Regions from separate parts of the Homo sapiens genome. Here all the other regions are linked to region 1. The links come from fine-mapping of genetic effects on plasma protein levels. Region 1 holds a variant in brackets. A gene starts in each other region. All regions are shown on their forward strands.

The links. PIP is the posterior inclusion probability: the model's chance that the variant is causal. The UK Biobank Pharma Proteomics Project read protein levels with antibody pairs (Olink). The fine-mapping took linkage between variants from a reference panel, not from the people measured, so its PIPs are less certain.
Region 2: it holds the start of ADGRE1, and the variant in region 1 is fine-mapped to the plasma level of the ADGRE1 protein (UK Biobank, PIP above 0.99).
Region 3: it holds the start of LAG3, and the variant in region 1 is fine-mapped to the plasma level of the LAG3 protein (UK Biobank, PIP above 0.99).

What each region holds. Positions count from the first base shown.
Region 1 is chr5:71,367,412-71,371,760 of GRCh38, forward strand. The region is part of intron 2 of LINC02197 (long intergenic non-protein coding RNA 2197); the gene reads right to left. Among named protein-coding and RNA genes, the nearest start is that of LINC02197, 77 kb to the right of the region's middle. The variant T/A (reference allele first, on the strand shown) is at 2,288.
Region 2 is chr19:6,885,112-6,889,460 of GRCh38, forward strand. It overlaps ADGRE1 (adhesion G protein-coupled receptor E1), which reads left to right and starts at 2,468. Exons shown (of 21, transcript NM_001974.5): 1 at 2,468-2,528. The coding sequence starts at 2,498. RefSeq lists an enhancer at 2,462-2,521.
Region 3 is chr12:6,770,746-6,774,745 of GRCh38, forward strand. LAG3 (lymphocyte activating 3) reads left to right here and starts at 1,775. Exons shown (of 8, transcript NM_002286.6): 1 at 1,775-2,165; 2 at 2,447-2,594; 3 at 2,952-3,256; 4 at 3,850-4,000. The coding sequence starts at 2,108. PTMS (parathymosin) reads left to right here. Exons shown (of 5, transcript NM_002824.6): 5 at 1-207. RefSeq lists a silencer at 3,035-3,364.

The DNA of each region.
Region 1 (4,349 bases):
ATCAAGTAGCCATATTAGCAATGATGCAGTTTGCACAGGGAAAACAAGAAGGAATAAATAAGCAAATGGGAGAAGAATTACAGAGAACAGTATCCAAGATGCTTCAGTTCAGATAATATTTTGTTTCATTATGAGAGCCTGCACTTAATTTTCCACCAGTTTACCAAGCTAGCGTGACCATCATGACCTTGTACCATCTTCAGATTCCACGAATGGTAGATGAAGAGTTCTACCCATCACTTCTAATAGGCAAAGATAGCACATGCCTACATGCACTGATTTGGAAGAAGGACAAGGCTAGAGATGGTGAGCGTTCCGCTTGAGCTATGGGCTATTAGCTTGTGGTAAACATGACTTAATAGTCAGTGATATGGACTTCACTGGCAGGTCTCATTCAGATAATCCCACAGTTCTTCTACTTCTTAATATAATATTTTCTAGGATAGGGGGTGGGGTGTAGTTGGGGGATCCATCAGGTGAGTTGAGAAGAGGAATGTGATAGGAACTTTTGTCACTGTTGGAAAGTGCGTGGGTGGTGACATTGAATAGATTCACTCAGGGAGACAAGTTAGCATATCTTTCATCTTTTTATAAGCAGCTGAGTAGAAAGAAATTGAGCAGCAGGAAAGGAGGGACAGGATACAAGAAAGTGTCTTTTCTTCCTCTCCATTCTTACAATGTCCTGATTCTTCAGCCCAGAGCTTTAAATATTTTTGTAACTACTTTCTTGGGGAACTGTCATGTTAACAGTAATTTTGTATATATTGAGCTCCTAAAGCTATGGATGCTTTATAAAGCTACAATGTAAATTTATTTCTCTCCATAATCCCTGTCACTTTCCCTGTCTCCACATAAAAAGCAAGAGACTTAACATTTCATTATTAATTACAGCAACAGCAAGTTGGCTGTCAGAGTCAAACCTCCACACACTCCCCCCACCAAGCTGCTGAGCTTCCAGCCATTTACTCATTAAGCTTATGATGATGATGGAGTTTTTAAAACCTGCTCTTTGTAATGGACAGTAGACCTTAAAAATCTGTCATAAATTGCTCAACTGAGGAAATCAAATGGCAAAGAGAGTGAACCAGTGTAAGAGCAAACAAATTGCACCATAAAAGAAAGTAGTGTCTTTAACTGAGCTTTTATTTTTACAAAGAATGTGAAAGCAACTTGGAGACTGTAAGTGGATGCTGTGAGACTGTTTAACTAAGAGCAGTTATTCACATTAAAGAGGCTGAACACATAAGGAAAAAAAAAAAAGAAAGAAAATCAGACCAAACAAAAACAAAGGAACAAAACCGCCTTAGAGTGTTTTCGTTTTTCAAATGATATGGTACTGCTGAGTAAAAATGACTAGGTCCATTTTTAAGTGTATTTTTTTCCTTAACATTTTAAAACCAGACTACATAAGATAAAAGCATATTACAAGGTGAATACCGATCAAGTTAAGGATCTAAGCGTATAACAGATTTTTCTCTCATATTTCATAAGAGATTTTTCAAAATGCACATTAATTCTGATATTTTTATTCATTTATTCAGGAAATATTAATGAGGACTGTTGAAGTCAAAATAGAAATGTAAAGAGGAATCTCTAAATTTAACATTTAATTAAGAAATAAATAATTTGCAAATCAGGGCATATATTCAGACCGAGTGGTCTTCAGCATGTCTGAAGAATGAAGAGAAGGCTGGAGGTTTTACTAAAAAAAGAAATATTAATTATTGCTCTTTGAGAAAGTTCATTAGCATTGGTAAGGTTCTGGGAAGCTGGAACGTCTGACTGGTGACTGATGGTGGGTAAAGTAAATCTTAGATTTGTAGCAGGTTTGTTTGGCAACTATTAGATAAAACAGTTGTGAGGTTACAGCAGGCACTTTCAGCAGCCAGACTTGCAGTGAATTACATTTTGGGAGAGCAATGTTTTGTGTCCTGAGTGCTTTTTGCCCCTGCCCTCTTGACTCTGTTTTCACTGGGTATGACGAGAATGCCCCAATTCAAATAATCAGCTTTCACAGTACCTATTATGGTCCAGTTCTTTTCTCAAACACTTTGGAATTCAAGAATAAACTAAACAGAAGAAAATCTGACCCTGAAGAAGAAAGTAACAAATAAGTCATAAGTATAATGGATAGGTAAGTTATATTGCAGATTTGAAAGAAATATGTGATGAAAAATAAGAGAAGTAGAGCAGGAAAAAAGAAATTAAGATGGTAGGTGTGGTGGAAGGAGAGGAGGCAAATGCAGGCTCAACCAGAAGGTAAGAAGTCAACAAACATTTTGGAAGG[T/A]AGGAGTTGTCAATATGGACAACATGGACATCTGGGGGAAGAGTTCCATGTGGAGTGAGGTTACCCTAAATAATTGAACTCGCTGGAAAAAAACACAACTCTCAATTTTACTACATAGAAGCTCTTGTAAATGAGAGCAGATGAGCTGTTACTTGTGTTGTGTCCCCAAATGAAACAGCTCATTCTAACATGGGGTAGTGTGCATCAAAGACAAATCATGCCATCTCACAATAAGTATACCCACCAAGAACCTTTTGGAGACCTATATTTGGCACTAAAAATACCATTATGAAGAAGAACTTGTATGCCTAATTGCACCCATGCTTTGGTCAATCCTCAATTATATATACATTATAATCAACCACATACAAAAGTCTAATATGTGCATTTACCCTGTGATTCTGTTTTATTCATATTAATAGAAGCATGTTTCTACCACTGTGGTGTCATATTATTCAATTATTTTGAGTTTTAAATCCCAGGGACCGACTTTACCTGAGTATTGTAGCTCTAAAGTTGGAAAGAAAAAATAATGCTGATACCATAATCAGATAGACATAAACAAAAGTGGGAAGAAATCTGCTATTGTGATGAAGCCTATATCATTTAACACCTGAAACTTTGACCAAGCAGAATAAATGAATGAATAAATAATTAAATAAATTAATAAAATGATTCTGGAATTGTAAGCAAGGGAAGATGAAATGATCAGTAGCAAATAACCAAACATGAGCTGACATCATGAAGAAAATAGCAAATTCATGAATTATTCTAAAATCGAAGCATTTGTTAGTCTTAAGTGTGAATATCTCTCTATGAAATTCTTTAATCTGGCCTTACAGTATGATTTACAAAGCACAGTTTCTATTTCTAAGAGCCTCTTACAACTCAAAACTTGCCTTACAAATTTTCTTAGAAGTAATCTTGACAGCAAACACATATTGTTTGAACTTTGTTTTTCATATTTTGTACATTAATTGCCATTCACGTTTTAGTAGTAAATTCTACGTGGTCCCAGGTGTGTGACTGTGCATGCAAGTTATATCAGAACAGGCCTTCCCAGCTTTGTCTTATCGTTATAATATGCAAACTATTGGCATAATTCTACATCTCCCTAAAGATTTTTTGAGTCTTTTGGGATTGATGGTCTCTCTCCCTCTCTCTGGATGCTGCTTTAGGACACTTACTAAGTATACTACTGTGTCTTTCTCAGTGATTAATGATGACTAGATTAATTGGCTTTCTCTTTCATTGTAAGTTCCCCTTTAACATTTCTGATTTTAATTGTGAGAAATAACCCTGCGCATGCATGTATTAGAAGTCAGGGAAGATCCTCTTGATCCATCCCATCAATTTCCCAGGAGCAATTGGCATAATTTAAATCTTCATCTAACTATTCTCCTTCAATTGTAATTGGTGCCACCTATTTTTAAAGTAGCCTATTCTTGTAACATTAACGTTATTTTGATAATTTATTGCGACCCCATTGCCAAAAACAGGCACAAGGGCGCCATAAATAAAGCAGTCTGATAATTGCTTAAACAAAACTGGGCCCCATGGACCAGCAATAAACTGTCATTAAGGTTAGGCTGGAGAAGCACCTGCAATTTCTCTGGATAACCTCTTTTATTTCTCTGTGTACACTACTGCTCATTTCAGAAAATGACAGTTTTGAAAGAGATCAGCAATTTGTTGAAACAAAGAATGAGAAAAACATGGTCTTGGAGGTATAATTTACTTTTACATTTTGAATTAAAAAATAGAAAAAGATATGTTGAAAAAAATTATCATATGAAAACCATAAGATTTCTACTGTAGAGCTAGAGCTATTTCACAGTTTAAAAGCTTGCTCCCTTTGTGGTAACTTTTATTTGTTATTTAAATTCAAGTTAATCTTCCCTGACTTGTAGTACTAAAAAATAGTACTCATGGTCTTTTATTGTTTTCATGCACAATTTAGATAATGTATTTTAGTGTTGCAGCTTGGCTCAGCAATTTTAAAGATTTAGGTTCTGAAAGTTGTTCATCAATAAAGTGGCCTATGTACCTCATTTGCAATGTG
Region 2 (4,349 bases), not on the chromosome of region 1:
TACAGGCGCATGCCACCATGCCCGGCTAATTTTTGTATTTTTAGTGGAGACGGGGTTTCACCATGTTGGTCAGGCTGGTCTCAAACTCCTGACCTTGTGATCCACCCGCCTCGGCCTCCCAAAGCGCTGGAATTACAGGCGTGAGCCACCGCGCCCGGCCAAATAATTTCTTTTCTAAAAAAGAGCAGTCTGAAAAATCAGCCGGCAGACATAGAAAAGCAAGCTGGAAGCTTGCTCGGGTGAATGCCGGCAGCTGTGCCAATGGGAATAGGCTACCTGGGTGCCAGGCGTGTTCAACATGCAGGCTTGCTCCATGTTCCCTTTTCTTTATCAACCACGTGTACGGTAAAGGAACAGGCAACATGGTCCTGGCCAGGTAGAGACCCCATCTGCATAATAAAATATTAGGGTGGGCAGCCAGCTTCTTTGTACTCTATGTAAACGGCACACCTGGTCCAACTAATCTTTGGGCCCTTATGTAAATCAGATATCACCACCTAAAGCTCATCTATAAAACCCCGTGCATTTCACCATGAAACTGGAAGACCCACTTGGGAGCCCCCTCTCTTTGCAGGAGAGAGAGCTTTTCTCTTTCTCTCGCCTATTAAATTTCTTTTCTTTCTTTCTTTTTTTTTTTTTTTTTGAGATGGAGTCTTGCTCTGTCACCCAGGCTGGAGTTCAATGGCACAATCTCGGCTCACTGCAACCTCTGCTTCCCGGGTTCAAGCGATTCTCTTGCCTCAGCCTCCTGAGTAGCTGGAATTACAGGCATGAGCCACCACACCTGGCTAATTTTTGTATTTTTAGTAGAGATGGGGTTTCACTATGTTGCCCAGGCTGGTCTCAAACTCCTGATCTTAGGTGATCCACCCGTCTCAGCCTCCCAAAGTGCTGGGATTACAGGCATGAGCCACTGTGCTCGGCCTAAACCTCTGCTCTAAAAGTAATTTTTTGTGTGTCTGCATTTTATTTTATTTTATTTTATTTTATTTTATTTTATTTTATTTTATTTTATTTTAAGACAGAGTCCCACTCTGTTGCCTAGGCTGGAGTGCAGTGGCACGATCTCGGCTCACTGCAGCCTCCGCCTCCTGGGTTCAAGCAATTCTCTGCCTCAGCCTCCGGAGTAGCTGGGATTACAGGTGCCTAACACCATACCACACTGGCTGATTTTTTGTATTTTTAGTAAAGACGGGGTTTCCCCATCTTGGCCAGGCTGGTCTTGAACTCCTGACCTCGTAATCCACCCTCCTCAGTCTCCCAAAGTGCTGAGATTACAGGTGTGAGCCACGGTGCCCGGCCATGTCTGTATTTTCTATTTCCTTGGTGTGAGGCAATGAACCTCGGGTATTACCCCAGATGGATGACACTGCTTCAATATCTGCCAGTCACTACACTTTGTTATCAGTGGGATTACATCAACTGGAGCCCATTCTATCTGCTTGGAGGCCAGGCCTGAAGATTCAAGGGGTTGACACCCTCTAGGAGCAAGCCTCAAGTCAACCCATGACTGACAGTAGGTGGGATATAAATACCTCAGCTCCCTCACCCCTCGGTTGGAATAACTGAAGAGTATGTTCCATGCCGCTCCCCAGTCATCCCTGGGGAGGTTAAGTTCCACTTTCTCACCATGTAACTTATTTGAAGACACACCCAGTATTGGCTCTTTGCCTTTCCTGATTCACTTTCTCCTCCCCCAGCTGGTGCTTTCTGGGGCCACCTTCTTGATAAACTACTTTTGCTAGAATCCTTGTCTGAGGGTCTGCCCTTGTGAGACCCTAAGATGTTACCAGAGAGAGTTAGGAAGCTGGGAATGGGGTGGAAGTGTTGCTGTATAATCGTCAGACAGAGTTGAGATCTGAAGGAAAATAAGATGGTTAAAGCTCTTGACTCTGGAATCAGAGGGTCCTGGGTTCAAATCTCAAGTCTGAGAGATCTTGGACAAGTTATAACTCCTCTGCAAGTCTCAGTTTCCATTTTGTTGGTGAATAGAGGGAGGGAGGGGAATTCCTACTTTACAAGGTTAACATGATAATGAAATTACACTTTGTTGCCAATGTGCCTAGCACACTGCCTGGTACATGATGGTTGTGATGGCTGTCTTTATACGGGAGACTGGGAAGAGACCCTAAAGGCTGAGATTTGCTTCACTGGAGGCAGGAAGCGGAAGCTCCTTTATTGGGTGCAATGAAAGAAGGTGTTGAGAGATGGGAGATAGATGTTGATGGGAAAGAAAAAGGGAGAGACCATGGGAAGGAGAGAGAGAGAGAATGATATACATTAGGCAGATTAACTTCTCTTTATTGTGAAGAAAGGGGGAAATTAGGATTTTCTAGGCTGTCTTTTAGTTGCAGCAAGTCAGCAAAAAGGGCTATGATGACCAGGCAGCATTGAGCAACTCTGACTCCGCCTTCCCCTCTTCGCACACCTTCTGGTTACTGAAAACCCAGCGTTAGTAGAAAAGTTTCTTTTCTTTGAATGACAGAACTACAGCATAATGCGTGGCTTCAACCTGCTCCTCTTCTGGGGTGAGTGTGAGGCTGAATGGGGGGCTAGGGGAGGCCTGGATTGGAAATAGACTTCAGGAGAAATGGGAGGGCCATGGATGGTCCAGCCAAGAGATCATAAGTCCAGACTGGATGCTGCAAACACCTTCATTCAGGGAACCTTTGACAAAATTCCATAGCTCAGGGAAGTCCATCTGTTAGGATAGATTTTTCTCTATAGTCATTCATTTGACCTGAGCAAGTCCTGTGTGTCAGGTGCTGTTCTAGGCACTAGAGGATATAGCAGTGAGAAAAAAAGACTAAGTTCCTGCACTCTTGAGGCTGATATTCTAGTGGGTAGGAGCAGACAGGAAAGAAGGCACAGATGATCATAGCCCACTTAGCACTGCTGTAACTTCTTTAAACATAGAGTGTATCCAATTGTCACAACATTTCTATGACATTGGGTCATTATTAGTCCTATTTTGCAAATGAGAAAACTGAGGCAAAAGAGATAAAATAATTTTCCCAAGGCCACTTAGTCAATAAGGGGTAGAGGCAGGATTTCAAGCCAGACAGTCTGACTTCAGAGTCTGTAAGCTTTTCCACTATACTATGTTGCCCCAAAAAATAAGTAAACATAGGAATTTCAGGTAGTGATAAGTGCTATGAAAGAAGTTGTTATAGAATGTGGTCGGGAGTTATGTTGAAGGGAGAAGTCTGGGGTTGAGGAGGGGCAGTTCGAGCTGAGTCCTGAAGGATGAGATAGACCCTTCCTGTGCTCTTATTTCTCTTTCTTCAGGTGTCAGTTTGTCTCAGCCTTGTTTATCTTCTGTGTTTCTGGTTTTTCTTCTATGTCTTGTGTGTTTTGGTCATTGGATCAAATTTAAGAATGGAGGATATTGGGGACATATTCTAAGTAGCAAGTATGGGTTTCCTCTGCTGTTGAAGAGTGGATCTGAATACCCTATTTTACCAAGGAGGAAACTGAGGCACAAAGAGATTAAATAACTTCCTCAAGGCCACGCAATCATTAATTGGTGAAGCCAGATTTTTAAACCTAAGCACTTTGACTTCAGACTTTGTATGCCTAAACAGCATGCTGAATTACCTCTAAAATAATTAATGAATGAGTAGAAGAATTTTTGTTAGTAATAATAGATAGAATTTGGGAGTTTAGATCTGTGGGACTTGTTGACTGGCAGGCTACATTAGAAGAAATAGGTGGCCTGTGGACATCAAATGTAGGCATGCAGAGTTGTTATTTTGGGGTGTTGGCAATGGTATTAACCATTAACACTCCCTATTCTGCCCTGAAGATAATCAGCAAAGAGTTGTGATAATGATAGTGATGATAATGATCATGATGGTGGTGGTTATAATAGTGATGATGAAAATGGTGATGATGATGGTGATGGTGATGATGATGATGATGATAATGGTGATGATAGTGATAATGAAGATGATGGTGATGATGATGGTGTGATAATGACCATGAAGATGGTGATGATGGTGATGATGATAATGGTGATGATAGGGATAATGATGATGATGGTGGTGATGATGGTGTGATAATGACGATGAAGATGGTGATGTTGGTGATTATGGTGGTGATGATGATGATGGTGGTGATGGTGATAATGGTGATGGTGATGATGATAATGGTGATGATGGTGATAATAATGATGATGATGATGGTGATGATGAAGATGATGATGGTGATGATGATAGTGATAATGATGGCGATAATGATGATGGTGCAGGAGACCTAAATGCTGCAGGGCTGCATTGCCTTTAAACACTAAAAAATGGGCAGGGCGCAGTGGCTCACGCTTGTAATCCCAGCACTTTAGGAGGCTGAGG
Region 3 (4,000 bases), not on the chromosome of region 1:
GCCTCTCCCACCTAACCTCTGCATCCCCCAGCCTCATGTCCTGCCCCATCCCTATCCTGCCTGATCCCTGGATCTCCCTCAGATCCCCTCTTCTCAGACAGCGCCAGGCCGGGGTGGGGCCGGGGTTGGGGCCGAGCCCCACAGCTGCCCCCCTCCCCTCCCTTTTTGTATAATTTAATAAAGAAATGGTCGCGCTTCTGTTTTTAACCTGTCTCCTGCTTTCCCGGGGGCTCCAGTCAGTGCGACAAAAGGGTAGAGAGGGAGGAGGGTGGCTGACCTCCCATTCTGCCAGGACCCTTCCCTTTGATACAAAAGCAGCAGCACACTCCTACCACCCACGACTCAAGAAGACAAGATCAGCCCTCCAGGGGTGGCCTGGAGCCCAGCTCTTCTGAGAGCTGACTTATGTCCTGTTTTGGATTCTCAGGGATGCTCCTCCCCAGCAATACACACTTCCCTGCTAACCCACACAAGACCTAGACACTGCTGAGCCCAGTGGAAAGCTACCAGCTCTATTGTGCTGAACCAGGCACAGAGAAACAGCCCAGAAACAGGAAGTCCTTCCCCTGAGCTGGGAGAGGGCTGGTAGTCCTGGGTCTCAGCCTGCTAGGATCTGGAGTGAGCTGCCTGGCATCAGAGATGCCCTCTGCCTGGCATGGAAGCGAGCTCCTTCCAGTCAAGCAGGGAAATCCTGGGTCTCGTGTCATCCCCAGGTCGGCTGTATGTTTCGTCACCTGCCCTCCAACTCTCCCTGGGCTGGGCTGGGGAGCGGGAGTTGTATGACTCTTGTCAGTCTTGGGCCTTCCCTAGTCCCACTGCCTCTGTTTCCCCTGAGTTTGATCTCTGTTAGGAGATTTCTAAGATTTCTGCATTTCTCCATCTCCGCATGGCCCTTGCCTTCTCCTCTTAGTTCGGAACCTCTGGACTGGAGGATGCTTCTGAGGGCATGGGGACCTGAGTTGGAGTGGGGAGGGGTGTTGACTCATCAACAGCATCATTTCTCCCAGGAGACGCCCGTAACTCATCCAAGGTCAGGACTACACACTGTCACGCACACAGGTACACTCACAGCTTTTATCTTCACGCTCCCTAACCTTGGCAAATTGTACAATTTCTTTGAAGCTCAGTTTCCTCATCTGTACAATGGGGAAAAGCATTAGATTTCATGAATTACTATAAGTAAAGTGTCCAATACAGTGCTTAGCACGTAATGAAGCCTCAATACAATGTAGTTATTCTCCATGCCCCACAAAGCTGGCATGCCTAGCCTCAGACCTACCATTTTTTGGGGTGCAGTAAGGCTTCCTGTCCACCATGTTCCCAGGGACATTGTACTGATGGGTGGAAAGGCAGGTCTAAAGGGGTCACGAAGTTCTGGGAGGTTAAGGGAACGAGGAAGGAGATTGAGCAACAAGGAAAGAGCTTGCCAAGAAGGAGGTGTGAATATTGGGACTGAGGAGGCAGCTTAGAGATGGGCAAGGGGGCAGTTCCAGGCAGAAATGGTTCGTGGAGGCAGAAGGTCCCTGGGAGAGGGAGCAGTCTGGAGGGTGGGGCAGGGGCGAGGAGGGGGAGGTGGGGAGACCCAGGACTGAGGAAGTAAACAAGGGGAGCGCCACCACAGAGGTGGAGAGGTGGAGGGTGCTGCTGCTGGGAATCAACCCCCTCAGACTTTCCACTGCGAAGCGAAACCGTAAGCCCTGGGGTGCGGGGGGCGGGCCGGGAGGAGGGGAAGTGGGGAAGGTGGAGGGAAGGCCGGGCACAGGGGTGAAGGCCCAGAGACCAGCAGAACGGCATCCCAGCCACGACGGCCACTTTGCTCTGTCTGCTCTCCGCCACGGCCCTGCTCTGTTCCCTGGGACACCCCCGCCCCCACCTCCTCAGGCTGCCTGATCTGCCCAGCTTTCCAGCTTTCCTCTGGATTCCGGCCTCTGGTCATCCCTCCCCACCCTCTCTCCAAGGCCCTCTCCTGGTCTCCCTTCTTCTAGAACCCCTTCCTCCACCTCCCTCTCTGCAGAACTTCTCCTTTACCCCCCACCCCCCACCACTGCCCCCTTTCCTTTTCTGACCTCCTTTTGGAGGGCTCAGCGCTGCCCAGACCATAGGAGAGATGTGGGAGGCTCAGTTCCTGGGCTTGCTGTTTCTGCAGCCGCTTTGGGTGGCTCCAGGTAAAACGGGGATGGCGGGAGGGTTGACCTCCAGCCCCACAGGAGGGGACCAGCAGGGATCTCTGTGGCCACAAAGGTCCTGAGGTCCTTAGCTCTGTGGATTCTTCTAATCCCTTTTTTGGGCAGTCCTTCCACCCCGAAAGCCTCTCTGGGCAGAGAAGAAACAGAAACCCAAGTTCTTCCTGCACCCTGTTTCTCCCTCGGGAAACACCCAGGCTCCTTCTCTACCCCTGCCTCTCGGCTCACGCCCCCTCCCCTTGGCCTCTCTTTTGCTCACCTAGTGAAGCCTCTCCAGCCAGGGGCTGAGGTCCCGGTGGTGTGGGCCCAGGAGGGGGCTCCTGCCCAGCTCCCCTGCAGCCCCACAATCCCCCTCCAGGATCTCAGCCTTCTGCGAAGAGCAGGGGTCACTTGGCAGCATCAGCCAGACAGGTATGCACCCCAAACTTGGGCAACAGGACCTCCGAATCCAGCACTCAACCCCACACCCGTGCCGGTCCTCTGTCCCCTGCCCTGAGGTGTCACTCCCTCTGAAGCCAGTGACCCAGTCTCCCTGCCCTCGCTTGCACCGTTCCTGCCCTTGCTCTGCAATCAGCGACCCTCACGCCAGCATCCCTTCTCTCCAGAAGTGGATGCGGCCAGTCCAACAGAGGGGTCGGGCGTGAGGGGACGGTTGGTGGTCAAGAGAACTCTTGGGGCGGGCTTTCTCATCCTCAACGGGTGGCTGCCTGCATCCTCCCGGGCTTCCTACCCCTGGAGCTTCTCAACTCCATTCTCTTTCCCGCCCAGTGGCCCGCCCGCTGCCGCCCCCGGCCATCCCCTGGCCCCCGGCCCTCACCCGGCGGCGCCCTCCTCCTGGGGGCCCAGGCCCCGCCGCTACACGGTGCTGAGCGTGGGTCCCGGAGGCCTGCGCAGCGGGAGGCTGCCCCTGCAGCCCCGCGTCCAGCTGGATGAGCGCGGCCGGCAGCGCGGGGACTTCTCGCTATGGCTGCGCCCAGCCCGGCGCGCGGACGCCGGCGAGTACCGCGCCGCGGTGCACCTCAGGGACCGCGCCCTCTCCTGCCGCCTCCGTCTGCGCCTGGGCCAGGCCTCGAGTATGTGGGGCGGGACGATGGGAGAAGGGCTGGGAGGTGGGTCCCCATCCCCTGCCTCCCGGGACGCAGGAAGGGCTGGGGCAGAGGCTGCGCCCTAGGCCCTGTCGGAGAGCTCCCAGAAGAGTAGAGGAAGGGGGTGGGCGGCCTGCTGGAGTGGAAGGTGCCCCCGAAGCACGTGTATGGGGGGCCCTGTGGAGAGATTGTGTCACCCCCGAGCTCCCCTTCTCCCACCCACGCGGGAGTGCCCAGAGGGAGGGGGAGGGGGGGAGAGCATGGGGCTAAAGTGATTCATTTCAGATATCTGTAGCTCAGGGGGTGGGCTTCGCGGGGTTCCAGGCCAGGAAAACGGCAAGGGTGGCTGATGCCAAGTAAACTCCAGGCCAGGGACGGGGAAAGTGGTCCTGGGGAGTCTTGGGGATCCACTTTATGCACCTCCAGGTGCTGGAAGCTGAGATGGGGAGAGGGTGATGTGGGAGAGGAGAAGACAAGTCTAAAGCCAGGTGCCTGTTTCCAGGAGCTTCCGGCTTGGCAGCCCTGCTGTGTTGGGAAATTGTTTCCAGTGGGCTGATGAAGTCTTCTTTATCCTTGCACAGTGACTGCCAGCCCCCCAGGATCTCTCAGAGCCTCCGACTGGGTCATTTTGAACTGCTCCTTCAGCCGCCCTGACCGCCCAGCCTCTGTGCATTGGTTCCGGAACCGGGGCCAGGGCCGAGTCCCTGTCCGGGAGTCCCCCCATCACCACTT